Linked DNA regions of Homo sapiens. The protein of the gene in region 4 purifies or fractionates together with the protein of the main gene of each other region. This does not show direct contact. Each region holds a gene or a part of one and is shown on either strand. Other genes may lie near its edges.

Region 1 (3,500 bases), on a different chromosome or scaffold from region 4:
TTTCTGTGCATTTTTTACCTCAATATGCCTATGTTCTGTTAATTGACAGGGTCTTCCAGGTCCTTTGGGCCCTCCAGGTCCGGCAGGTCCTACTGGAGAAAAGGTAAGTCACAAGTTGTTAATTTGTACACTCAAAATTATGAGTCCTGAATAGCAGGCTCTTTCATAAATCTTTTCATTTTATAACATATGGTATCTGAGCAAGATCATTTCAGAGTTCTTTTCCACTATCTCCTCCTACACAGTGACCAATGTCCTAAAATTATGTTTAGCTACTGTTTTGGACAGTAACCATCTAAAATCTGCTTTCTAGGGTGAACCTGGTCCTCGAGGTTTAGTTGGCCCTCCTGGCTCCCGGGGCAATCCTGTAAGTGACAGTATTTTGGTGTTCTTTAGTGTGAGATTGAGCAATAAAACAATTAATCATTTTGTTTTTATATTTATATAAAACAATGCTTATTGGTTTTAGGTTATGTATAACTTCCTGGTTTTTAGCTTTTGCTTTTCTAATTAAACTTAAAAATTATCTGCTATACAATCTATTAAGTGTAGTTAGGCAGCTTGTTTACTAACTAATTTGGAGGCTCCTTTGAGACTTCTGACCTTGGGAATTTTGTTCTATGACCTATATCTTTATATAATCCTTAAGGACCTTCCTTAAGCAATATGTGTAATTTTTCTATATTTACATGTCTAACTATCAGATTTATATGATCATATTTTAAAATACTGTTCCTGTTTAGGATAATGTGTGAAAGCTACAGTAATCTTTGTCTCCTCCTAGGGTTCTCGAGGTGAAAATGGGCCAACTGGAGCTGTTGGTTTTGCCGGACCCCAGGTATAATTTTCAAATATCCCTAATTTACAAATAAACACTTATCTTGTTATAATAAGTTTAATGATCATTGTCATATGTTTTGAAGTCGTATTCTGGAAAATTTACAGTTTTCTAGACAATATTCTCATTTTCAATACATTTTTTTATAGACTGGCACAAAACTTGTTTGTGCTAGTTGAGCTTCTATAATTATTTGTTAAAATAAAAATGCAGTGGGATAGCTTATTTTTTAGGCTGTTTTGAAAGATCTCATCAGAGTACTTTTTTTCCTTTAGTATGCTTTAATACTGATTATAAAGCACTGTTTCACAATATATGATTAATTGATACATTAGTAATAATTACTCTAAAGTAATTTGTCTATAAGTCTTATAATCAATTGCTTGTTTGTATAATTTTTTATAGGGTCCTGACGGACAGCCTGGAGTAAAAGGTGAACCTGGAGAGCCAGGACAGAAGGGAGATGCTGGTTCTCCTGGACCACAAGGTTTAGCAGGATCCCCTGGCCCTCATGTAAGTTAACAAGAAAAAGGCATAACTTGAGTCAAGTGCCCCATGTTTGGAGTGTACATTCAGCCTCTTTTGCTTCACTATAGTGCTCTTTTGTTTGTTTCTATTCAGGGTCCTAATGGTGTTCCTGGACTAAAAGGTGGTCGAGGAACCCAAGGTCCGCCTGTAAGTTTATTTGATGCTCTGCAAAGTATGCACAGCTAATTCTAGTTACCTAGTGCTTCCTGGTCATGTAAAAGATAATTTTCATCTGAGACTGAAATAACAAATTATTACCTGTATCAACTGTACTATAGTGCAAAGGGCACTTAACTCAGATGGAGATTTGGGTTAAAATCAAGTTTGTAATCTTGGAGACCCAGGTGCCTCACCTGTAATGTAAGTAACATACTACCTATATAAAAGAGTAAATAAACAATGTGAAAGCACTTTATTTAATTTGATTGTATAAAATATCAATGTGATTCTAGTACTACCTGCATGGAAAAAGGAAAATAGTGCCCTTCCTACCAGTTAATCTAGATTAATTCCCCAAAATATGGGATTCGTACGAAGAAAAAAAAATATTGCTTACAACATGAAAGGAAATCTAAAGGCTTCAGTCTTCCTGTGAAAAAAAATCCCAGGAAAATACATGTAACTAATTTATATTACCTTAAAAATTGCTTATATGATATTCTGGTTCTAGGGTGCTACAGGATTTCCTGGTTCTGCGGGCAGAGTTGGACCTCCAGGCCCTGCTGTAAGTCAACTTAGTGAGACAAGTCACTGATAATGAAATAATTACACACACACGTATACATTTGAGTTAAATTTATTATTTTATTTAATTTCTTAATGGTATGTTTTCTTATTTAACAACTCTTATTCCAATAATGCATGCTGGTATTTCAGCAAAGCAAATCATCCTTAATAATCTAGTATTTCTTGGAGGAGCTAATTTGCAAGTTCTTTTTAGCCCCAATGTTTTATTATTATTCCGTTTAAATACTGAATACTTACAGTATTATGTGCTAATAATCATTCTCTTCAGTTAAGATGCAACTATGAAACTTTCTTTAATAAATGTCATTCATTATAAGATCAAATCATAAGAATAAATAATTATCTCAGAATAAAGTATTATATATTCATCATTGGAGTGGAGCTTTAAATAAGTTTGAAAATTCAAGTTAGTTGCACCACTCTTTAAAAATTATTCAAAGGGAATTGACTGCAAATGATATTTAGTTTTCCCCCTGGGGAATGAATCTACAGCTGTGTTTTCTTTTGTTTTGTTTTGTTTAAATCCTATAGAATGACTGATTATCTAACAGGTAAAATGAACCTGCGAGGCTTGGACATCTGCATCTGAGGCAGACAGCGTTATGTCAATCACTCTTACTTGCCTTCCATTTTGCCCTCCTTGGTGTTTCTTTCTTTGTTATACTAGGGAGCTCCAGGACCTGCGGGACCCCTAGGGGAACCCGGGAAGGAGGGACCTCCAGGTCTTCGTGGGGACCCTGGCTCTCATGGGCGTGTGGGAGATCGAGGACCAGCTGGCCCCCCTGGTGGCCCAGGAGACAAAGGGGACCCAGGAGAAGATGGGCAACCTGTAAGTTTGGCGTATCCGTTCCAGACCACCTTCAACTGAGATATTTACAAATAGAAACCCATAATGATCAGTGTCACAAAAATGCTTAAATATTATGCTGGGCACATTCCTAAAATTTTTAAAGTGCATTAAATCTATAAGGCTTTAGGAAAAACGTGTATATATATAGATTTTAAAAATAGCAGTAATAGATATGGTATCTAAAAACTAAACCCAAAAAAATTATTTGTTAAATGTTCATTGTGTATGAATAACTTTAAAAATATATGTATATTATATTTTATATGCAAATGCCTTTAAATATTGTGTTTAGATAACTCTTTTTTCCTTATTGTTAAACTTTCTTTTTGTCTTTTTATAAAGAAGAAAAAATATTTCTCTGAAGTTACCTCTTTTATTGAGTCAGTATTCACATTAATCTTCAGTTTCTTTCCAACGGATGAGCTGTTTTCACCTTTAAATAATGTTAGAGGTTCTGTGCGGATTACAATTTATGACTACTCATATGCAGTATGATTTTGAGAAACAGAGAACTTCTTTTTCATACTGAAAAACCTG
Region 2 (3,358 bases), on a different chromosome or scaffold from region 4:
AAAAGGAAAAGCCCCAGGATGGGTCTGGCTTGTGGCATGCCTGGATGGGGCTTGGAGCCTCTGACAATGTCCTAGGAACTCTCTCTCCTTCCCCTCACTGTACCGTTGAGTGTGTAGTCTTCATATTGGGGTAGCTCTCCCCATGGTGCGGCAGCAGTGGGCCCCAGCAGCTCAGCCACCACAGTAGACAGAGAGCTTCTCTTCTCTTTTCTCTTCTCCTCTCCTCTCCTTCCTTCCTTCGTTCTTTTTTCCCTTCTTTTTTCCTTTCTTTCCTTTCTTCCTTTTCTTTTCTTTTTGGAGACAGGGTCTTGCTCTGTCCCCGAGGCTGGAGTGCAGTGGTGAGATCTTGGCTCCCTGCAACCTCTGCCTCCCAGGTTCAAGCGATTCTCCTGCCTCAGCCTCCTGAGTAGCTGGGATTACAGGCGCCCACCACCATGCCCGGCTAATTTTTGTATTTTTAGTAGAGATGAGGTTTCACCATGTTGGCCAGGCTGGTCTTGAAATCCTGACCTCAGGTGATCCTCTTGCCTCGGCCTCCCAAAGTGCTGGGATTACAGGAGTGAGCCATCGCGCCTGCCCTTGCCCAATAATTTCAAAAGAAATCCTCATGGGGGAAAAGAAGTCCCAAAGCTGATGCCCATTGCCTCTCATTGCTCAGAGGCCCCTCACTGGCCACACCCAGATCATACACCCACCCGAACCTGCACCAATGGGGGAGCTCAGTTCCCCAGAGGAAAACTACAATGCAATTGCCAGCAGTGGGAGGGGCTGTTGGGCTGGCCATCCTTCTGTGGGTGGTCACTTTTCCTTATGGAGTCTCACCTGTTAACTGAGCATCTCAGTGGGCCAGGCACCCAGCAGGCAAGAGTATCCTCTAGTTGTCAGAGTCCGGGTGGCAGAAAACCAACCTAAACTCACTTAAGCTCACCGTGGAGTGTATTGGTTCATTTGGCCAGAAAGTCCCAAAGTAGGGCCAGCTCCAGGGTTTCCTGCTGTGTGCCACGATTCTCCAGCTCTTGCCTGGCCTTCAACCTGTTGACTCTTTCCCTCCCCCTGAATTAGGCTTCTCTGTGTGACAGTCATAGGGAAGGTTCTGATTGGCTAAGATGAGGTCATGTGCTTTCCCCTTCCCATGTCTATGAGGACTGGTCCTGTAATTAACGGTTCACCAGGAACACTGGAGAGGCCCGAAGGATGGGCAGGGCAGGCCAGGTTGATAGCTGTCAATGACACACACGTTTATTGATTCAGCAAATAGCTGAGTGCCCATTTATGCCAGACCCTGGAGATAATGAGGCCCACTGGAGCCAGTCCTGCCCTTACATTCTAGTGGGAGACACACCCAAACAAACCCGTAAGCCAGAAGGAATTCCAGGTAATGTTAAGTGTGACAAAGAAAACTAAAGCAAGCGGCTGGGTGCGGTGGCTCACGCTGTAATCCCAGCACTTTGGGAGGCTGAGGCAGGCGGATCACCTGAGGTTGGGAGTTCGAAGACCAGCCTGACCAACATGGAGAAACCCCATCTCTACTAAAAATACAAAATTAGCTGGGCATGGTGGCGCATGCCTGTAATCCCAGCTACTCGGCAGACTGAGGCAGGAGAATCGCTTGAACCCAAGAGGAGGAGGTTGCGGTGAGTTGAGATCGCGCATTGCACTCCAGCCTGGGCAACAAGAGTGAAACTTCATCTCAAAAAAAAAAGAAAACTAAAGCAAGCTACGAAGATGGCAGAGAATGATGGTGGGGGGAGCGCTTTTAGACACCGTGGTCTCTGGGGAGGTGATGCTGGTGCAGAAATGTAAAATATGTGAAGCGGAGAGCCATGCCAAGGTTTGGGGTGTGAGCATTCCAGGCAGAAGAAACAGCCGGGTATTGCAGTCCTGAGGCAGGGGCCAGCCCTGTGAGGTGGAGCAGCCGCGAGGACACCTGTGTGGCTGAGTGAGCCCGTGCAGGCAAAGAGGAGTGCCGGCAGGTTCTCAGCAAGATGGGACCGCTGGGGGACCCTGGGCAGGAATGTGAGGTGTGGGGAGTGGGCCATAGTGGGTGTGAGTGGAAGTGGGGAGGCCAGTGAGGGGGCTACTGCCCTGAGTGACTGCCTCACATGGGCCTCACTGGAACCGCTGGCCAGGCTGGTCTCGAACTCCTGACCTCAAGTAATCTGCTCGCCTTGGCCTCCATACCTCTTGGTCTATACCTAGAAGTAGAATTACCAGGTCATATGGTAACTATGTTTAACCTTTTGGGGAACTGCCAGACTGTTTTCCAAAGCAAAGGTGGGCCCTGTCAGAGGCACTTACTTGAACTAAGAGAGCCTGACTTTCATCAGCTCGCCCCTGAGGCTGGCACTGCCACTCAGTCTGTTCTGTTTCCTGTGTACATCATCTCATTTAACCTTGAAATAACTACACTGCCTCTGGATCTTCCATTCAAAGTCGGAGATAAAATCAGTGCCCTGGAGTTTAACTTTGTGGAAGCAGTAGATGAAAAAGCAAGCTTGATGATATTTTTTTAACAGCTCTATTGAGTTTAATTTATATGATTTATATACCATACAATTCACCCATTTAAAGTGTACAATTCGGCTGGGCGTGGTGGCTCATGCCTGTAATCCCAGCACTTTGGGAGGCCAAGGTGAGTGGATCACCTGAGGTCAGGAGTTCAAGACCAGCCTGGCCAACAAGGTGAAACCCCCGTCTCTACTAAAAATACAAAAATTAGCTGGACGTGGTGGCGCATGCCGGTAATCTCACCTACTTGGGAGGCTGAGGCAGGAGAATCGCTTGAACCTAGGAGGCGGAGGTTGCAGTGAGCTGAGATCACACCATTGCACTCCAGGCTGGGCAACAAGAGCAAAACTCCCATCTCAAAAAAAAAAAAAAAAAGTGCAATTCATTGGCTTTTTAATTATGCAGTCAGCACCACGATAAATTCTTGAGTGTGTTCATTACCTGCCCCACTCTGCAAAAAAAAAAAAAACCCATACCCTTAGCAGCCATTCCCCATGCTTCCCTCCCGCTGCTCCTAGCAATCACCAGTCTACTCTGTGTCTCTCTCTGTTTGCCTACTCTGGACATGTCATAGCTATGGCATCACATAGTATGTGATCCTCTGTGCCTGGCTTCTTTCACTTAGCATAGTATCTTCAAGGTTCATCCATGTTGTAGCATAGATCAGTGCTTCATACCTTTTTAAGGCTGAATAATATTCCATTGCATGGATAGACCACATTTTCCTTACCTGTTCGTCAGTTGGTAGACATTAAGATTGTTCCCACTTTTTGGCTGTTATTGCTGCTGTGAACATTCCTGTACAAGTTTTTGTGTGTGCAGATGCCGCCATTTCTCTTGGTCTATACCT
Region 3 (3,500 bases), on a different chromosome or scaffold from region 4:
ATAAAGAAAATATGGTATATATACCATGGAATACTACTGAGTCATAAAAAAGAATGAAATCATGCCTTTTGAAGCAACATGTATGGAACTGGAGGCCATTATCCTAAGTGAAATAACTCAGAATGTCAAATACTGCAAATTTTCATTTCTAAGTGGGAGTTAAACAATGGGTACACGTGGACATATAGAGTGGAATAATAAACAGATATTGAAAACTCCAAAAGGTGGGAGGTTGGGAAATGGGTGAGGGTTGGAAAATAACCTATTGGGTACAATGTTCACTATTTGGATGATAGTGACATTAAAAGCCCAGATATCTGAGCTTCACAATATACCCATGTAACAAAACTGCACTCGTACCCCCTGAATCTATAAGAAATAAAAATAAAGAACTGATTAATTTTATGTCAGACAAATGTCATGCCCCTAGTTGCTTTTGCACTGAAGAACTAGGCTCAATAAAACCACATACTATTCCACAAATTAACTCAAAATAAATCAACTTCCCTAGGAAAATAAAAAAATAGAACAACTGTGTCTTCACTACTAAACTCCAGAGAGAACAGACCTGCTACCATTTTATACATTTAATATATTTCAAAAGAAAAAAACTGTACAAAATATGTTCTCTAATTATTGTGGAATTAAATTGGAAACAAAAAATAATACAAATCCCTAAATGTTTATAAATTAAATACCTAAATGTAACATCTATAAACCTTTAGAAGTTAAGCCACACATATCTTTTTTGTGTGTTTGGAGACAGAAAATCCTTCTGTCACCCAGGCTGGAGTGCAGTGGCACAATCTTGGATCACTGCAACCTCTGCCTCCCAGGTTCAAGCGATTCTCTTGCCTCAGCCACCAAGTAGCTGGGATTACAGGCGCTCACCACCACACCCGGTTAATTTTTTGTATTTTTAGTAGAGATGGGGTTTCGCCATGTTAGCCAGGCTGGTCTCGAACTCCTGAGCTCAGGCAATCCACCTGCCTAAGCCTCCCAAAGTGTTAGGATTACAGGTGTGAGCCACCACGCCCAGCCAAGCAACACATTTCTAATAAACCTATAGGTCAAACAATAAATCAAAAGGGCAAAGATAACATTTTTCCAAAACATTTTTAAACAGCTTTATTGAGATATAATTCACGGCTAGGCGCGGTGGCACATGCCTGTAATCCCAGCACTTTGGGAGGCTGAGGCGGACAGATCACTTGAGGTCAGGAGTTCAAGACCATCCTGGCCAACATGGTGAAACCCCGTCTCTACAAAAAATACAAAACTCAGCCAGGTATGGTGGCACACACCTATAGTCCCAGGTACTTGGGAGGCTGAGGCACGAGAATCACTTGAACTTGGGAGGTGGAGGTTGCAGTGAGCCGAGATTGCACCATTGCACTCCAGCCTAGGTGACAGACAGAGACCCTATCTTTAAAAAAAAAAAAAAAAAAAAAAAGGATATAATTCATAATTCATATACCATATAATTCATCCATTTAGGGTATATAATTTCAACTATTTTTCACATAAAGATATGTGCAACCATCAATAGTTAATTTTAGAACATTGTGTTATGTCAAAAAGAAAACCCATGCCCTTTAGCTATCACCTCCCCACCTCCCTTTTCGCCATGCTCCCCAACTCCAAGCAACCACTGAACCCTAAGCAACTACTTTCTGTGTCTACAGATTTCCCTATTCTGGAATTTCATGTGAATGGAATCATATAAATGGACTTTTTGTGACTAGCTTATTTCATTTAGCATAATGTTTTCAAAGTTCATTGAGGTTGTAACATGTAATCAGGATTTCAATCCTTTTCATGGCCAAATAATATTCCCTTGTATGGATATGTCCAGTTAAAAAAATCCATTTGTCAGCTGATAGACATTTGGGATGTTCCCATTTTTTTACTATTATGAATAATGCTGCTATAAACAAACATACAAGTATTTGTGAACAAGAGCAAGTTCACTTTGCTCTTGGCTGTCAACAAGCAGAAATTGCTGGATCATATGGTAACTCTATGGTTAAATGAGGAAAAAAGAGATACGTATTTTTAACTGAATAAAAATGAAAACACAACTTATCAACATCTGTGGCATGCAGGTAAAGCAGTGCTTAGTGGGAAATTTATATTTTTAAATGTTTATATTGAAAACAAAGATCCAAAGTCAATCTAAACTTCTACCTTTAAGAGCTAGACAAAGATAAGCAAATTAAACTCAAAGTTTAAAGAGCAGAAATCAATGAACTAGAAAATGGGCAAACAACAGAGAATTGCCAGGGAAACCAGACAATGGTTGTTGTAAAAATCAACAAAAATTTGAAATAGATTATAGAAATAAACATAAATATTTAAAAATATCAAAGCTGAATTTAGGGAAATAAAATACATTCTTTAAGCAAGAAGAGGCAAGGGTTTCTCAGGACACAGAAAGCATAACCATAAAAGAAGAAAATAATCAACAAATTATACACCTAATGCAAAGAAAAGCTTCTGTTCATCAAAAGGTATAATTAAAAATATGAATATGCAAAATCACAGGAAAATATACTCATAAATATTTGTATATTCTAGAAATTCCTGTATTCTAGATACGAATCTGACAAAAGATTTGTATCTAGAATATATAAAGAACCCCAACTCACTATTAAGAAGGCAAACAATCCAATTTTGAAGACTGGCAAAAGACTTGAACAGAGATTTCACAAAGATAAACAAATAGCCCATAAACACAAGAAAGTGCCCAACATCATTGTTTATCAAGAAAATGCACATAATAAACTAAAATGAGACACAAGAATAGCTAAAATGAAAAAGAGTGGCAATATCAAATGTTAGCAAGGGTGAAGAGTAACTAGAACTTTCATACCTTACCTGTAGGAATGAAACTAATACGACCAACTTTGGATATTTAGTAGGTTCTCATAAAGTTAAATATAAACCTACTTCTGAACCAACAATTCCACTTTTCAATGTCCATCCAAGAGAAATGAAAACATATGACCATGAAAAGACCTGTGCAAAGTATTCAAAGCAGCTTTATTCATAAAAGCTATAAATTGTAAACAACCCAACTATCTATCAACAAGGGAATGGATCAACAAATTGTGCTATATTCACACAATACTACTTACCAATAAGAAGGAACAATGTACTAAACAATATAGATAAATCTCACAGATACTATGGCAATCACAAATCATACTGGACTCTTTCTTGGTTACTTGATAAATTTGGCCTTTCATTGAGATTTAATCTTTCAAATGTATATGATACTTTCCATTCTGGTTGACTTAAAGCCAAGGTTCTACTTTAACCCTTTCCTCTCCTACTCATACTTACAGAACACACACAGAAGAACATACACAAAACTTAGAACTGTTAGCTTGCTTTACACTTGCAGAATATCAATATATCCACGTTTTCCACAACTCTAACTTCTCTCACTATGTTAAATTTGGCTAATTTCCAGGCAACTGTATATTCTCATTTTAAAA
Region 4 (3,500 bases):
CTGCCATGAATCACCTGGAAAAAAATCAAAGACAACAATGTTAAACACTTCCATGCATTCAGAAGAAAATATTAACTTAGAGTTTTAACAATTTTTGCTATTATCTCAATTCTACTGACTAAGTCCAAAATGTACAAGTCCTTTGGGAGAAGACAATCTAAAGGTTTGCAGACTAATATTTCTGGCTTCCCTATCTAAGGAAAAGAATCTATTAAAGATACATCAATAGTTCATGCCTATAACCCCAGCACTTTGGGAGGCCAAGGCAGGAAGATCGCTTGAGCCCAGGAGTTGGAGACCAGCCTAGGCAAGATGGCAAATCCCTGTCTCTACAAAATAATAACAATAAAAAAAAAAGTAGCTGGGCATGGTGGCACATTGCCAGCAGCCCCAGCTTCTTCAGAGGCTGAGGTGGGAGATTCCCTTCAGCCCACGAGTTTGAGGCTACAGTGAGCTATGATAGCACCACTGCACTCCAGCCTGGGCAACAGAGCACGACCCTATCTCTTAAAAATATATATGTCGGCTGGGCGCGGTGGCTCACACCTGTAATCCCAGCACTTTGGGAGGCCGAAGTGGGTGGATCACCTGAGGTCAGGAGTTCAAGACCAGCCTGATCAATACGATGAAACTCCAACTCTACTAAAAATACAAAAAGTAGCCAGGTGTGGTGGCATGCACCTATAGTCCCAGCTACTCAGGAGGCCAAGACAGGAGAATCGCTTGAACTCGGGAGACGGAGGTTGCAGTGAGCCAAGATCATGCCACTACATGCCAGCCTGGGAGACAGCAAGACCCCATTTCCAAAAAAAAAAAAAAAAAATATATATATATATATATATATATATATCAAACAATGGTAAATTGTTATCTTACAAATAATATATGCCTATTCCATTGATTTCATATTGTTCATCAAATATACTTTGAACAGGTTCCAAAATTAGCAACATAAAAATGATTTCACAGCCAAATACTAAATAATGAGAAAAGGGACAAAAATGAAACTAAAAAGTATACCTGAAAACTCCTAGAAATTTACCTAAAGGAAATATTCAAATAAATAGGCAAGTTGTACATATAAGGTTTTTCTATCTAGGCTTATTATTTAAAAATCAGAAACTATTCAAAAGTCCAATAACAAATTATTAAAACATGATACAGTCCTACAATAAATTATCAATTTAAAATGATGTCAACAGTTTATTTTTACAAAGAATATTTATCAGATATTGTATGAAAAAAAAAACAAGTGACTGCAGTATACTGAGTACGTCTTCGAAAACTAAATACGCATATATTTGTTAGATGAGAAAAAGTCTGGAGAAATATATACCAAAATAATGTCCCTGGGTAGTAGGTTTTCAGGAGAGGCTTTCTTTTCATTTACCTCATTACCCTTACTTTGAAAAACAATAATGATGTAATGCTTATATATTTAAAAATACAAATATATAATTTTAAAGGAAATTAAACCAAATCTTTCCATATCAGAGAAATGAAGGTAAAATAGAGAACTATAATTAGATATCTTAAATACAGCGGAATAAACTAATTCAGTCTATTTTTTTGTTTTCGGAGTCTTGCTCTGTCATCCAGGCTGGAGTGCAGTGGCACAATCTCGGCTCACTACAACCTCCGCCTCCCGGGTTCAAGCGATTCTTGTGCCTCAGCCTCCCGAGTAGCTGGGACTACAGGCACCTGCTACACGCCCAGCTAATTTTTGTATTTTTAGTGAAGACAGGTTTCGCCATGTTGGCTAGGCTGGTCTAAAACTCCTGACCTCAGATGATCCGTCTGACTCGGCCTTCCAAAGTGGTGGGGTTACAGGCGTGAGCCACTGCGCCTGGCCACTAATTCAGTCTACTGGGTTATTTATGAAGCAAATTAATTTTCTCCTTTTCACATACCCCCACCCCAGACCATCTATCTTCTTAATTCTCATCCTTACACAGCTCCCGGCTTCCTCCCCAATGACCCATCCTCCATCCCTGAATTCTCTCCCAAACCTTTCCACTGTGCCCTGTGGAACCTTACTTCAATGTAAACAAAATCCCCTACATGCTCAGGTTGGTCACAGAAAGTTCCCTCCTCGACCTGATTTAAATGAGACATAGTTTTCCTAAAAGTCACAGCTTCCAGGCCTCCTGCCTCCAACCTCTAGCTCTACTCCCACGCGTGTTAGAAAAAAAAAAAACAAAACAAAAAAAAAACTTTTAGAGCTTACAGCCCTACTTTCCAAGTCTTCTTTCTCTTAGCTTTCTATTGTTCTTTTTCTATAACTTGGCCTTTTGCTCAGATAAAAATCCATCTTCTGTCACCCCTTGTCACTTCCATACACATCTTCTGATCAATCACTCTCAAACATTTGATGAAGACTTCAACACCTGGGCCAGGCATGGTGGCTCACACCTGTAATCCCAGCACTTTGGGAGGCTGAGGCAGGCGGATCACTTGAGATCAGGAGTTCAAGACCAGCCTGGGCAACATGGTAAAACCCTGTCTCTACTAAAAATACAAAAATTAAAGGCCGGGCGTGGTGGCTCATGCCTGTAATCCCAACACTTTGGGAGGCCGAGATGGGTGGATCACCTGAAGGTCAGGAGTTTGAGACCAGCCTGGCCAACATGGTGAAACCCCATCTCTACTAAAAATATAAAAATTAACCAGGCATGGTGGCGGGCATCTGTAATCCCAGCTACTCGGGAGGCTGAGGCAGGAGAATCACTTGAACCCGGGAGGCGGAGGTTGCAGTGAGCTGAGATTGCACCACTGCACTCCAGCCTGGGCGACAAGAGTGAAACTCCGTCTCAAAATAAATAAAATAAAATACAAAACAAATACAAAAATTAGCCGCACATGGTAGCGGGCGCCTGTAGTCCTAGCTACTCCGGAGGCTGAGACAGGAGAAATCTCCTGAACCCAGCAGGTGGAGGTCACAGTGAGCCAAGACTGCACCACTGCACTCCAGCCTGGGCGACAGAGCGAGGTTCCATTTTCAAAAAAAAAAAAAAAAAAAAAAGCCGGGCTCAGTGGCTCACGCCCGTAATTCCAACACTTTGGGAGGCTGAGGAGGGTGTATCACCTGAGGTCAGGAGTTCAAGACCAGCCTGGCCAACATGGAGAAACCTCCTCTCTACTAAAAATACCAAAATTAGCTGGGTGTGGTGGCTGGCACATGTAATCCCAGCTACTTGGGAGGCTGAGGCAGGAGAATCGCTGGAACCTGGGAGACGGAGGCTGCAGTGAGCCAAGATCGCACCACTGCACTCCAGCCTGGGCAACAGAGCAAGACTCCATCTCAAAAAAAAAAAAAAAAAAAGACTTCAACACCTGGCTAAGTCATCTTTCACACCTCTTCAATGTTCACATAAGATCAGCCATCCAAAAACTGTAAGTCAAAACTCCCTGACCATCTCAACTCCTACAACCTCCCCACTTATTCCATTGCAAACCCTACTCCCACCCCACTTGGACCTGTTCCTGATCCAAAACTGGTC
Region 5 (3,526 bases), on a different chromosome or scaffold from region 4:
CTCTATGGAACACTATTGTTTCTTACCCTGCTCTAATACCTACCTGCTACTGCCCAATGCTTAGTTCAAGCATCCTCTACTCCCGGAATCTAAGGGGTTAAGTTGGGTGCTCTTTCTCTTACAAAAGACCTCCATGCTTACCTCTGTTCTTACACTATACAGTATTATAATGGCTAGTTTGCTTCTATGTTTCTGTGAGTTCCTTGTGCATTCCTTGAGCTGGGGTCTGTGTTCATGGTCCCTATAAGGCTCACCATCTAGCCAGAATGTGTGGCATATAGTAAATGCTCAGTAAACATTTGTTATCTAAAACAAATATATTTCTTGTCCTAATACTTTCCAGAGAAATAGTTGCTCCTATCCAGTTCTTTCTAGTCCTGAATTTCTCCCTCTTCTCCCATTCCAATCCCTGCATCTTGAATATATTAATAGCAGCTTCAAAATAACCATGTCATTCCAGGGCAATGTGGAATATATCCTTTACTTCTCTTTTACCTTTTCTTTTCTTCTTCTTTTTTTTTTTTTTTTGTAACATATCTAATAATGCATGTCCTGAAGGAATTTTCCTTTTTTTCTTTTCTTTTCTTTTTCTTTTTCTTTCTTTCTTTCTTCTTTTTTTTTTTTTTTTTTGAGACAGTTTTGCTCTTGTTGCCCAGGCTGGAGTGCAATGGCACGATCTCGGCTCACTGCAACCTCCGCCTGCTGAGTTCAAGTGATTCTCCTGCCTCAGCTTCCCGAGTAGCTGGGATTACAGGCATGTGCCACCACGCTCGCCTAATTTTGTATTTTTAGTAGAGACAAGATTTCTCCATGTTGGTGAGGCTGGTCTTGAACTCCTGACCTCAGGTGATCTGCCCGCCTTGGCCTCCCAAAATGTTGAGATTACAGGTGTGAGCCACCGTGCCTGACCTCTGAAGGAATTTTCTAATGAGGAAAAAAAATTTATAACTATTGTTATTCTTTTGGAGGTTAAAGTTTTACCTTAGTGGTATTATCCTTTACCATCTGGTAAAATTTGTGCTTAGATTTTTGAGTTTTGAAGTGTTTTCATTTTATTTTATTTGGTCCATTTTAGGCATTGTGTGGCTGCTCAATTAATGTACCAACACTGGATGGAAGAAACATACCTATGTCAGTAAATGATATTGTGAAACCCGGAATGAGGAGAAGAATTATTGGATATGGGCTGCCATTTCCAAAAAATCCTGACCAACGTGGTGACCTTCTAATAGAATTTGAGGTGTCCTTCCCAGATACTATATCTTCTTCATCCAAAGAAGTACTTAGGAAACATCTTCCTGCCTCATAGAATGAAGAACTTTGTTACACATATTTTGATAAGGCACTGAAAATATAAAAGGACTGGTAGTTTACTGATGTAGATGTGAATTCTGTATAAAGATGTGTAAATTCTTTTGAGGGTTCATTAAATTGCATGAATAGAGACGGGTCAAATAAATAGGCAAAAGGGATTTTTACAGTTAGAGATAAAAGAGAAAACCATTCACTGTATTTTATTTCATTTCTCCTGATTCAGATATTTTTAGTAATTTGCTTATATGTAAAAGTTGTTTTTGTGGAGTCAGTGGATATATTTCTAATGAAGTGCTAGACTATCCAATTACTTAATTTCTTATACCTTTAGATAATCAGTATGAAAAGTTCCCATTTATAATGGAAATGAAAATTCTTAACTAAACTATACATGTAATATGTATTTCTAGAAGAGAATAAAAACCCAAGTCAGTTATTAGATTTAAATCACCTTCTGAAATGCTGCTATAGGGCTGGTATCTGTAAAAGAATATCCTGATGCATCTGTTTCACCATTTTGATTTTTAAAGTATGCTGTAGCATTTCTTAATAACATCGTTGTGATGTTCTTAAGGCAGATCTTTCTTCATAAAAAGGAAAGTAATGGCAATTTCTCTCCTGTGGAAATCCCAATTGCTTGAATTACTGATATTTTAGAATAGACTTTTTAAAATGCCATATGTAATTTTATGCAAGTTGACTATATATCTTGTACTTAATAAATTATAGGCTCATTTTGTTCTCTGCTAGTTTAAAGTAATTCGTTTAATAATAGATGTGTTTTTAGAGGAAATGCTGTTACTTGGAATTAATTTTCCAGTTATACAGTCTTCTATAACTTACTAATAATATTCTATATGTACTTTATGTAATTTCCCTAAAAAGAATGAACTACCACTACACTATGGTGTTAAACCAAAATATAGGGAAAATAAACACTAACTGCTGCTTATGGATAATGTTGCAACTACTTGTTATGCATATAAATATTTTACTTTTTCACATGTATAGATTGCATTTCTTAGGTGTTTTAATTTTTTAAATATATTTATGTTTTAAAAATTTAGTTTTGTTTTCTGTTTTATAACTATAGTGAGAATGATGTTTTGAAGCAAAATTTTTGGTTATAAAATAGTTTTCAGGATTATATATATATATACTGGATCCTATCGCCTTTTAGTAGAATATGAAATATTCTTTTAGAAATCCAATATAAATAGGTTATAATAGCCATATTCTTTATTACTTTATTGAGATATAATTTACATGCCATAAAGTTTACCCTTAAAATATATAATTCAGTGGTTTTTAGTGATATTTACAAAGTGGTACAATCATCATCACTTTCTAATTCCAGAATATTTTCATCACCCCAAAAAGAAATCCTAAATCCATTAGCAGTTACTTCCCATTCTTCCCTTCCTCCAGCCCCTGAAAACACTACCATCTACTTTTCATCTGTATGGATTTGTCTGTTCTGGACATTTCACATAAATAGACTCAAACAATATATGGCTTTTTTTTTTTTTGGTCTGGCCTCTTTCATTTAGCTTAATGTTTTCAAGGTTCATCTATGTTGTATCACGTATCAGTACTTTATTTTTTGTGTGGCACGTCATATGGATATACCACAATTTGTTTATCTTTTCATTAATTATGGGCATTTGGCTTATTTCTACTTTTTTGGCTATTATAAATAATGCTGCTGTGAACATTTGTGTGCAAGTTTTTGTGTTTCAATTCTCATGGGTATATACCTAAAAGTGGAATTTCTGGGAGTAACCATATATTTGAGTTGCAAATGGAAAATGCTTGAAAAAAATGCCACAGAATTCAGCTAATCGTATTTATTACTCTAATTCATAAATGATTCCTCTATAACTGTCTCTCTGAATGACAGTTAAAACTCCCTACAGAAGTGTGAACATTACAGAAATTTTCTCACAAGTCTAAAGATCTAGATCTGAAAAGCATCAGTCAACGTGGTGAATGATAGTGGTTTCTGTTTTAAACCCATCATTATTTATTGCAATTTTCTTGATTAAGCATTTTCTCCCAGGTAAAATAAATGATTTATAGATAGATATATAATAATCTTTGGATTAAAAAGTTTTTTTAAGCAGAGAATTATTATTCTAGTAGTAAATAAATTTACATAACTACACAAAACCAGTATACCAGTATCTCTCTTATCTTAAAGGATATTGACAAT
Region 6 (3,505 bases), on a different chromosome or scaffold from region 4:
TTTTGCTAAAAATAGTGGCCAGACCAGAGCTCTGGAGCCACCTGTCCCACCTCAAATGGGTCTGGGGGTCAGGAGGCAGGGTTTTATCTCTGTCTACCATCTCCCTCGAACCCACACTGCAACAGGAACTGTGAGAGTCTTTGTAAGTAAACTGCCCTGTCTAGGTCAGTACCCACCTGAGCTTTGGACGCACACAGCTTTTAGTACCCACCTGAGCTTTGGACACACACAGCTTCTAGTGATTTCTGGGGCCCCACCGTAAAGTGAGCATGCTTTCTGAACTCGCTTCTCTGTGACTGATGTTAGGCTGGGCCCAGAGGCACAGCCGGGGCCTGCCTAGCACTCACATGCTGGACAGGTCTGGGAGAGGCAGAGTGCCCCACCTGCCACTAGGCTGGGTGCCCACAGCCCGCATGCAGCAGCTTGCTGCACCCCAAGTCCAGGTCGGGCTCAGCTCTGGCTCACAGACTGGAGACAATGCAGATGCCAGAGCAAAGGGCCAGGAAGGGTCAAAACATTTTATTCTCTTTTTTTTTTCTTTTTTAATAAAGTTAAACAGTAAAACAAAAATTCACAAGCTGCCTCCCTGTCCACCCCCGCCTCCCTCCCCTGCCCTCGGTCTTCGGCATTGGTTCCCTTTGCTCCACCCCACTCACAGAGACACAGGGCATCCAACTGAGAAAACGAAACTGCTCTAAGCACACGGAGACGTGATGAAGGGAGGAGGTGAACTGTTTCCACATTCAAGATTAAACTGAGTGAATCTGCATTTTCTGGGTTCTGGGTGGTTGCCCTTCATTAGCCAAATTGAAAAAAGAAATTCCCTGGACCAGATGCTGAAAGAGAAAAGAGGGGTTGGTAGTTGGCTATGGATTTTCTAAGGAAGATCACTTTGCTCTGATTATGGAAAAGTCTTCAAGGGCTGCTTCAAACTCAAACACAGAGAGAAACTCTATGGGTATCAAACAGCTCAGGCTGTTTTTGGGTGCAAGAGGGAGCACGTGACTGTATTATACATGGGTAGCTTCTGACCTCAGCATTATCTATATAGTACCTTTGCTCTTGCAGAGAAGCCTTGGTACTAGGCAGTTAGAGATGCCTCCCTGACCCTGCAGAGATGCGGTGGCTAAAGGTCCCAAGGCAAGGGGTGCCTGGGAACCTTCCTGTCTTCATCCTTAGCAACAGCCGAGTGGATAGATGCCCTGCTAGATGAGAATTCAGCTGCCCCCGCTCATGGGCCCCTCTGACTCCCAAAGAGCTGCCTAAGAGGCAATGAGTGTGTTGGCTTGTGATCTGGGAACTCCCAAGAACAGCAGGCCCACCTACCTTCAAAGCTGAAGCCGCCAGGACCGCCAAAGAATGCCTTGAAGATATTGTTTGGATCAAAATCTGTAGAGCAGGGCAAGTAACATGGAAGGGAAGAAAAGGTGAAAAATTAGAAATGTTCGAAGAGAACTGATGACACTGAGAACAGATCTCCAAAGCTTTCCTGGAGAGTCTCACTCCCCTCCTTTCCCAACACTTCAGACTGCAAGTGAGCAAACCTGCCCCATCCCGTGCAAAACATGCTACCTGATCCCACTCCTAGGACATGTTCCCTTCTCCTTCCAACTGCTGCCCCAAAGGAAGCTTTCTCTGCTTCAGCTTGCTTCATTGGGCTGTTTTCTCAACAAATGGAATGCCATTTGCACTTACACAAGACTTTCCCCATACTCTGTCTCCCTATAATGCTGGAGCGGCTACTAAAAAGGATAAAATGTATCACTTAAATGTTACCAAAAATAAATATAAGAGCAAGATCTAGGATTTACTGTATTTGATTCCATGTCTTTTACTCCGTAGACTCTAGGCTAGAAAAAAAGCTATGGTTTATTAGCTGGGCGTGGTGGCTCACACCTATAATCCCAGTGCTTTGGGAGTCTAAGGTGGGAGGATCACTTGAGCCCAGGAGTTCAAGGCTGCAGTAAGCTATGATCACAACACTGCACCCCAGCCTGGGTGACAGCAAGACCCTGTCTTAATAACAACAACAAACCAACAAAAACACCTACTAGGTGCAAAGTACTAGGTACTTTGCATACATTACATTACTTAATCCTAGTAATGTTTTGTCAGGGTAAGTATCATTCCCAATTAATACTCAACAAAACATATGTAGGTGGTTCAAGTAACTTGCCCACGATCACATGGCAGCGAAAGCAGCAGAACTGGAAAATCCAACTCCTGCCTGACTGGCTCTGTGCACTTTTGCAAGGCCACAGCATGTCTGGTGGCCCCATCCCTGACTGACTGCCCAAGCTTCACAGAAGGACTGACCCCCACCAGGTGATCCCACAGCCACCTCGTGCCCAGAGTGAGTTTCTCTGCTTGCATCTGTGTGTCTTCCTGGGCTCCTGGCTTAGTGAATGACCCCGAGTCAGCTATGCCTGTCACTTTCCCCAACACATCTGAATAGCAACCAACTCCTGCTGAGTCTACCACTAACTAACTCCCTGACTGTGCCCTCCAATCCTTTCCTACCTTTTGTGTCTTCCTTCCATCTCCATTCTCCTTACTCCCTCCAACCCCAACCTCCTCACCCCTATCACAAATATATTTCCAGAGCCAAAATCTGGTCCACAGTGCCCCTACTTAAAACTTCACGGCTGGCCGTGGTGGCTCAGGCCTGTAATCCCAGCACTTTGGGAGGCCAAGGTGGGTGGATCACGAGGTCAGGAGATCGAGATCATCCTGGCTAACAAAGTGAAACCCCGTCTCTACTAAAAAAAATAAAAATAAAAATAAAATAAAATAAAATTAGCCGGGCGTGGTGGCAGGTGCCTGTAGTCCCAGCTACTTGGGAGGCTAAGGCAGGAGAATGGCGTGAACCCGGGAGGCGGAGCTTGCAGTGAGCAGAGATCGCGCCACTGCACTCCAGCCTGGGCGACAGAGTGAGACTCCGTCTCAAAACAAAACAAAACCTCTTCACTAGTTTTTGACTGCTTATAGATCTTCTTAACTGCTAGGCAGAGGAACATGTTTATTGTGGTGAACCTAGGTTTATTAAACACAAATACCCCCACACTGAACTGGAGAGGACTCAGCATTATCTATATAGTACCATCATTCTTATTTTAAATTCCGGCTGGGTGCGGTGGCTCACGCCTGTCATCCCAACACTTTGGGAGGCCAAGATGGGCGGATCACACAAAGTCAGGAGTTTGAGACCAGCCTGGCCAACATGGTGAAACCCCGTCTCTACTAAAAATATAAAAATTAGCCGGGTGTGGCTGCAGGTGCCTGTAATCCCAGCTACTCAGGAGGCTGAGGCAGGAGAATTTCTTGAACCTGGGAGGTGGAGGTTGCCGTGAGCTGAGACTGCACCACTGCACACCAGCCTGGGTGACAGAGTAAGACCATGTCTCAAAAACATAACAACAAAAAAAAATTAAATAAATAAATAAGTTGCAATGGAAGGCCAGGCACAGTGGCTCACGCCTGTAATCCCAGCACTTTGGGAGGCCAA
Region 7 (3,500 bases), on a different chromosome or scaffold from region 4:
GGTCAGGGTGGGCTGGAATGCCCTGCCCACTCCCCAGTTCCAGGCCCGCCTTCTGTTCCTCAGTCCGAGTCCCAGGATTGTGATTCGAGGCATCCTGCCCATCCCCAGCAGCAGAGAGCAACGGCAGGTGCGAGGAGCAGCTCCCAGGATCTTACCTGCCATCAAACCGATGCTTCAAGAAGTCAAATAAAGCTTTCTGCATCATGTCTGTAACCTGGGGGTGGGGGTTTGTGGGGAGGGAGGGAGGAGAAGGCAGGCATTTAAAGCCGCTCAGACTCTGAGTCGCTGGGTATTTGTACCCTCACGTTCCACTTTCTTCTGGACAGGCCTTTACGGCGGGCGGGGGTCTGAGTCTGAGGGGCCTCCACTGGGGTCTCTGGTTCCAAGGTCCCTGTAAGTGGCATCTCTGGGAGGGCTCTTCTGAGGGTTTCTTTGGGGGACGGGGCTCCTCTGAGTGGGTCTTTCTGTGGATTGGGCCCCCTGGGGGTTGTCTCTGAAAGTCTGTAGCCCTCCTGGGAGGATGCCTTGGGATCGGGCCCTTCTAGGGGATCTCTCTGGGGTCTGAAGATCTTTCTAAGGCCCCTCTGCATCCACTCCCCTCTAGGAAGTCCTACCTCGTAGCCCTTGAGCGACGGTCCCACCAGGATGATGGGCCTCATGGAAGGCACCACGTCATAGGGGGGCACATGCTCTGTCTGGGGGGGGAAGCAGGGAGGGGAAACCCCAGAGTGGAGATGACATTAGATCCTCTCCCCCAGACTCCAGGCTCCCCCATGCAGCCTTCCCCCACCCTGGTCCCAGAGCCCAGATGTAGGGATCAGGGTGGGGGTGGGGAGGGATGGCCAGGGAGAACCAGGAAGGGTGGGGGAAATGGGGGACAGATGTGGGAATGGGTGTTAGAAGGTCCCCCTAGCTCATCCCAGGGAGTGGGGAGGAGGACACAGAAAGCTGTGATACTCACCGACTTCTGCTTCTGTTTGGCTGGGTCCAGAGATTGCCAAGAGAGGGAAGGGGGAGGAGAGAGGGAAGGGGACCCAGGCAGGGGCAGAGGGCAAGGCAGGAGCCAGGACAAGAGAGGGAGGGAGAGCCGGGCAGACGAGGAGAGATAACAGGGCATGCGTGTTAGTGACAGACAGAGCCAGAGACGGGGAACGGGACCCCACGCCAAGGGGGAGCCAGAGGTGGCCCTGGATCAGGGCTGGGAGCAGGACTGACAGTCAGTCCAGTGGATGTGGGAATATTCAGACATATCCTACCCTCTTCTGGGTCTTGGAAAAGAGCTGGAGAGGGTGACAGCCCCTATCTTGTTGCCCATCTCCTGCCCCCAGTGCATGCCAACATGCCCATTTTAGGGGTTCCCTTAACTGTCTTGCTTTGCAGCCAGCAGCCCCCCCCCACTATGTGCCCACCCAGAGAGTCAAAAAAGGGCAAAGAAGGAATGCCATCCCATGTCCTGCTTCACATGCCAAGGTAGACACCAACACCAGAGCAGGCCCCTGGGAGTGAGGGGAGAGGTCAGGGTTCATGACCACCAAACCCTGCTGCCCCAGGTGTGGGGGCAACCTTCCAAGGGCAAGATCTCCTTCCTGGAGATCGGGCCAGGGTGGAGTTGTGTGTGGAGGGGGATGTGCCCATGCTACCCTTCCCTCCACCTCAGCAGGAAGCCCTGATGCCCACAGAACAGGTTGGTACCACATCTGAATCCATTACAGCCCCCTTCCCTCCACCAAAGTGCTGGCCCTGACTCCCCCACCTCTTGCAAGAACACAGCGAGAATTACCTTCTTAAAGAAGGGGATGCGTTTGCCATGGGGTGGCGGGGTGGTGACACTGCTAACACTAGTCTTGGCAGAGCCACTCTGCTCACCAAGCTCAGCCTCTTCCTCCTCTAACTCTAGGGGGTCTAGTTCAAAGGCTAAGTTAGTCATTTCATTACCTGGACCGGAGAGTCAGGAGAGAGGGAGGAGGGAGGCGAGGTGGGGAGAAGGAGTGAGATGAACGTGGAGACACAAGTACAGAACGCAGGGATGGGGATGGGGAAAAAAGAAAGAAGAAGAGGTGAATGGAACAGGGCTGGGAGAAATGAATGGGGGCAGGGCAGGGGAATCAGGCAGAGAGATGGAGCTACCAAAGAAAAGGGAGAGGAGAGACATGACAGGCCCAGCTTGAGGGGTAGCCTACTCTTCATGGAGGGGGAACCACTGCATGTGCTTGGGGGACTCAGGATTGGGGTGTTTCCTACTGCAGGGAAAGGAGGATTCAGGGAGTGGGGAGACCACCCCACCCAGGAGCTTCTTCCCAAACCCCTGCATGGCGATGGCTCTTACCACTGGCAGGGGGTGTGGGGCGGCGGGTGCCAGTCACCACATCTCCCAGACTGGAACTGGAGTTATCGCCTGATTTGCTGTGTGGGCAGAGGCAAACCGAGCTTGTGAGCAAAGAGGTGGGCGTGGGGGGCTCTCATCCTCTCACATGCGGCACCCCCGGAGGTGCTCCAGCCCCACTGGTGATGCCACAGGCAGCTCTGTGCCCTCAGGGCCAGGGACAACCATTGAGGCCTAGTCCAGGCTGTATGGCCTCTCCTGGGGTTGGCAGCATCCCCTTCCCCTGCCCCACCCAGACACCTGGAGCCGAGGCGGTTCTGGCGCAGCTTCTGTTCCTGCAGCAGGCGAAGGCTGTCCAGTTTGACGGGGCTGGGAATGAAGCCAACCTCACAGCCCTCCTTCACCAGCCGCCCGATCCACCAGTCATTATTGTATTTCTGCAAAGAATATGGCAGGTGGGTGGAAAGAGCAAGAGGGAAACTGCAGGGGCAAGCTAGCAGTCACTCTCTAGGGGAAACGCCCAGACTCACCTCCCAGCCCAGGGGTGGCACCCTCAAAAATCCCCAGCCCTGGCTCCAGCCTCTGAGTGGAGCTGCCAATTCTCAGGACAACTCCAGGACCAGCATGCTTTCTGGCCATGGACCACCCTGCCACCGGCCCAATGCAATTCTGAGAGTCCTTCTCCCCATGTGCCCACCCTACTCTACAAAGGCCGCTGGAGTAAATGCGGATACCTACATGTCCCTGGCACACCGCCATGCCAGTTCAGGCCCCCTAACAAACCCTCCCAACAACCTTCTGACCTAAGCATTACCACCTCATTTTTCCAGTAGAAAATTAAGAGGCTCAGAGAGGTGGAGAGATTTGTCTAAGGTCACACAGCAGATTCAGCCTGGCTCTGCTTGGCTCAGAAGCCTTTTGTCCACTAGCACTCTGGCTGCCTGTCTCCTGGCACCCACTTCCCTGCCCTCCCTCCAGATACCCACCTCCTTGATGTGCAGGAAGTCTTTGGGCTCGAAGGTGATGGCCACTCCCTGCACAGGCACCTCATCCCCTGGAGACGGATTGTAGCCAACATTTGTCCGCACAGCAAATGCCACTGGCTTGGTCTAGAGGAGGCACACAGGGGAGGATGGCAACTAGAGGGCAAACCACAATGTAATGTACAACTTCCTGA

What was found.
Region 1: the proteins of KLHL15 (region 4) and COL5A2 purify together in Homo sapiens (co-immunoprecipitation; one large-scale study listed by IntAct). This does not show direct contact.
Region 2: the proteins of KLHL15 (region 4) and GRK6 purify together in Homo sapiens (co-immunoprecipitation; one large-scale study listed by IntAct). This does not show direct contact.
Region 3: the proteins of KLHL15 (region 4) and ZNF451 purify together in Homo sapiens (co-immunoprecipitation; one large-scale study listed by IntAct). This does not show direct contact.
Region 5: the proteins of KLHL15 (region 4) and DNAJB4 purify together in Homo sapiens (co-immunoprecipitation; one large-scale study listed by IntAct). This does not show direct contact.
Region 6: the proteins of KLHL15 (region 4) and DNAJC7 purify together in Homo sapiens (co-immunoprecipitation; one large-scale study listed by IntAct). This does not show direct contact.
Region 7: the proteins of KLHL15 (region 4) and CACNB1 purify together in Homo sapiens (co-immunoprecipitation; 3 studies listed by BioGRID and IntAct, with this or other methods). This does not show direct contact.

Annotation. Positions count from the first base shown.
Region 1 is NC_000002.12:189,050,762-189,054,261, reverse strand, and holds part of COL5A2 (collagen alpha-2(V) chain preproprotein), read left to right. Parts: intron 1-49; coding exon 50-103; intron 104-313; coding exon 314-367; intron 368-784; coding exon 785-838; intron 839-1,243; coding exon 1,244-1,351; intron 1,352-1,459; coding exon 1,460-1,513; intron 1,514-2,036; coding exon 2,037-2,090; intron 2,091-2,780; coding exon 2,781-2,942; intron 2,943-3,500. UniProt on the Homo sapiens protein: Type V collagen is a member of group I collagen (fibrillar forming collagen). It is a minor connective tissue component of nearly ubiquitous distribution. Type V collagen binds to DNA, heparan sulfate, thrombospondin, heparin, and insulin.
Region 2 is NC_000005.10:177,436,676-177,440,033, forward strand, and holds part of GRK6 (G protein-coupled receptor kinase 6), read left to right. Parts: intron 1-1,213; exon of another isoform or gene 1,214-2,195; intron 2,196-3,238; exon of another isoform or gene 3,239-3,356; intron 3,357-3,358.
Region 3 is NC_000006.12:57,142,188-57,145,687, reverse strand, and holds part of ZNF451 (E3 SUMO-protein ligase ZNF451), read right to left. Parts: intron 1-3,500. UniProt on the Homo sapiens protein: E3 SUMO-protein ligase; has a preference for SUMO2 and SUMO3 and facilitates UBE2I/UBC9-mediated sumoylation of target proteins. Plays a role in protein SUMO2 modification in response to stress caused by DNA damage and by proteasome inhibitors (in vitro).
Region 4 is NC_000023.11:24,006,687-24,010,186, forward strand, and holds part of KLHL15 (kelch-like protein 15), read right to left. Parts: intron 15-3,500; 5' UTR 8-14; coding exon 1-7. UniProt on the Homo sapiens protein: Substrate-specific adapter for CUL3 E3 ubiquitin-protein ligase complex.
Region 5 is NC_000001.11:78,014,939-78,018,464, forward strand, and holds the end of DNAJB4 (dnaJ homolog subfamily B member 4), read left to right. Parts: intron 1-1,075; coding exon 1,076-1,309; 3' UTR 1,310-3,026; downstream 3,027-3,526. UniProt on the Homo sapiens protein: Probable chaperone. Stimulates ATP hydrolysis and the folding of unfolded proteins mediated by HSPA1A/B (in vitro).
Region 6 is NC_000017.11:41,975,935-41,979,439, forward strand, and holds the end of DNAJC7 (dnaJ homolog subfamily C member 7), read right to left. Parts: intron 1,807-3,505; exon of another isoform or gene 1,390-1,806; coding exon 1,327-1,389; exon of another isoform or gene 837-1,326; coding exon 799-836; 3' UTR 501-798; downstream 1-500. UniProt on the Homo sapiens protein: Acts as a co-chaperone regulating the molecular chaperones HSP70 and HSP90 in folding of steroid receptors, such as the glucocorticoid receptor and the progesterone receptor.
Region 7 is NC_000017.11:39,184,170-39,187,669, forward strand, and holds part of CACNB1 (voltage-dependent L-type calcium channel subunit beta-1), read right to left. Parts: intron 3,433-3,500; coding exon 3,310-3,432; intron 2,761-3,309; coding exon 2,624-2,760; intron 2,404-2,623; coding exon 2,327-2,403; intron 1,936-2,326; coding exon of another isoform or gene 1,781-1,935; intron 982-1,780; coding exon 962-981; intron 696-961; coding exon 615-695; intron 215-614; coding exon 156-214; exon of another isoform or gene 64-155; intron 1-63. UniProt on the Homo sapiens protein: Regulatory subunit of L-type calcium channels. Regulates the activity of L-type calcium channels that contain CACNA1A as pore-forming subunit.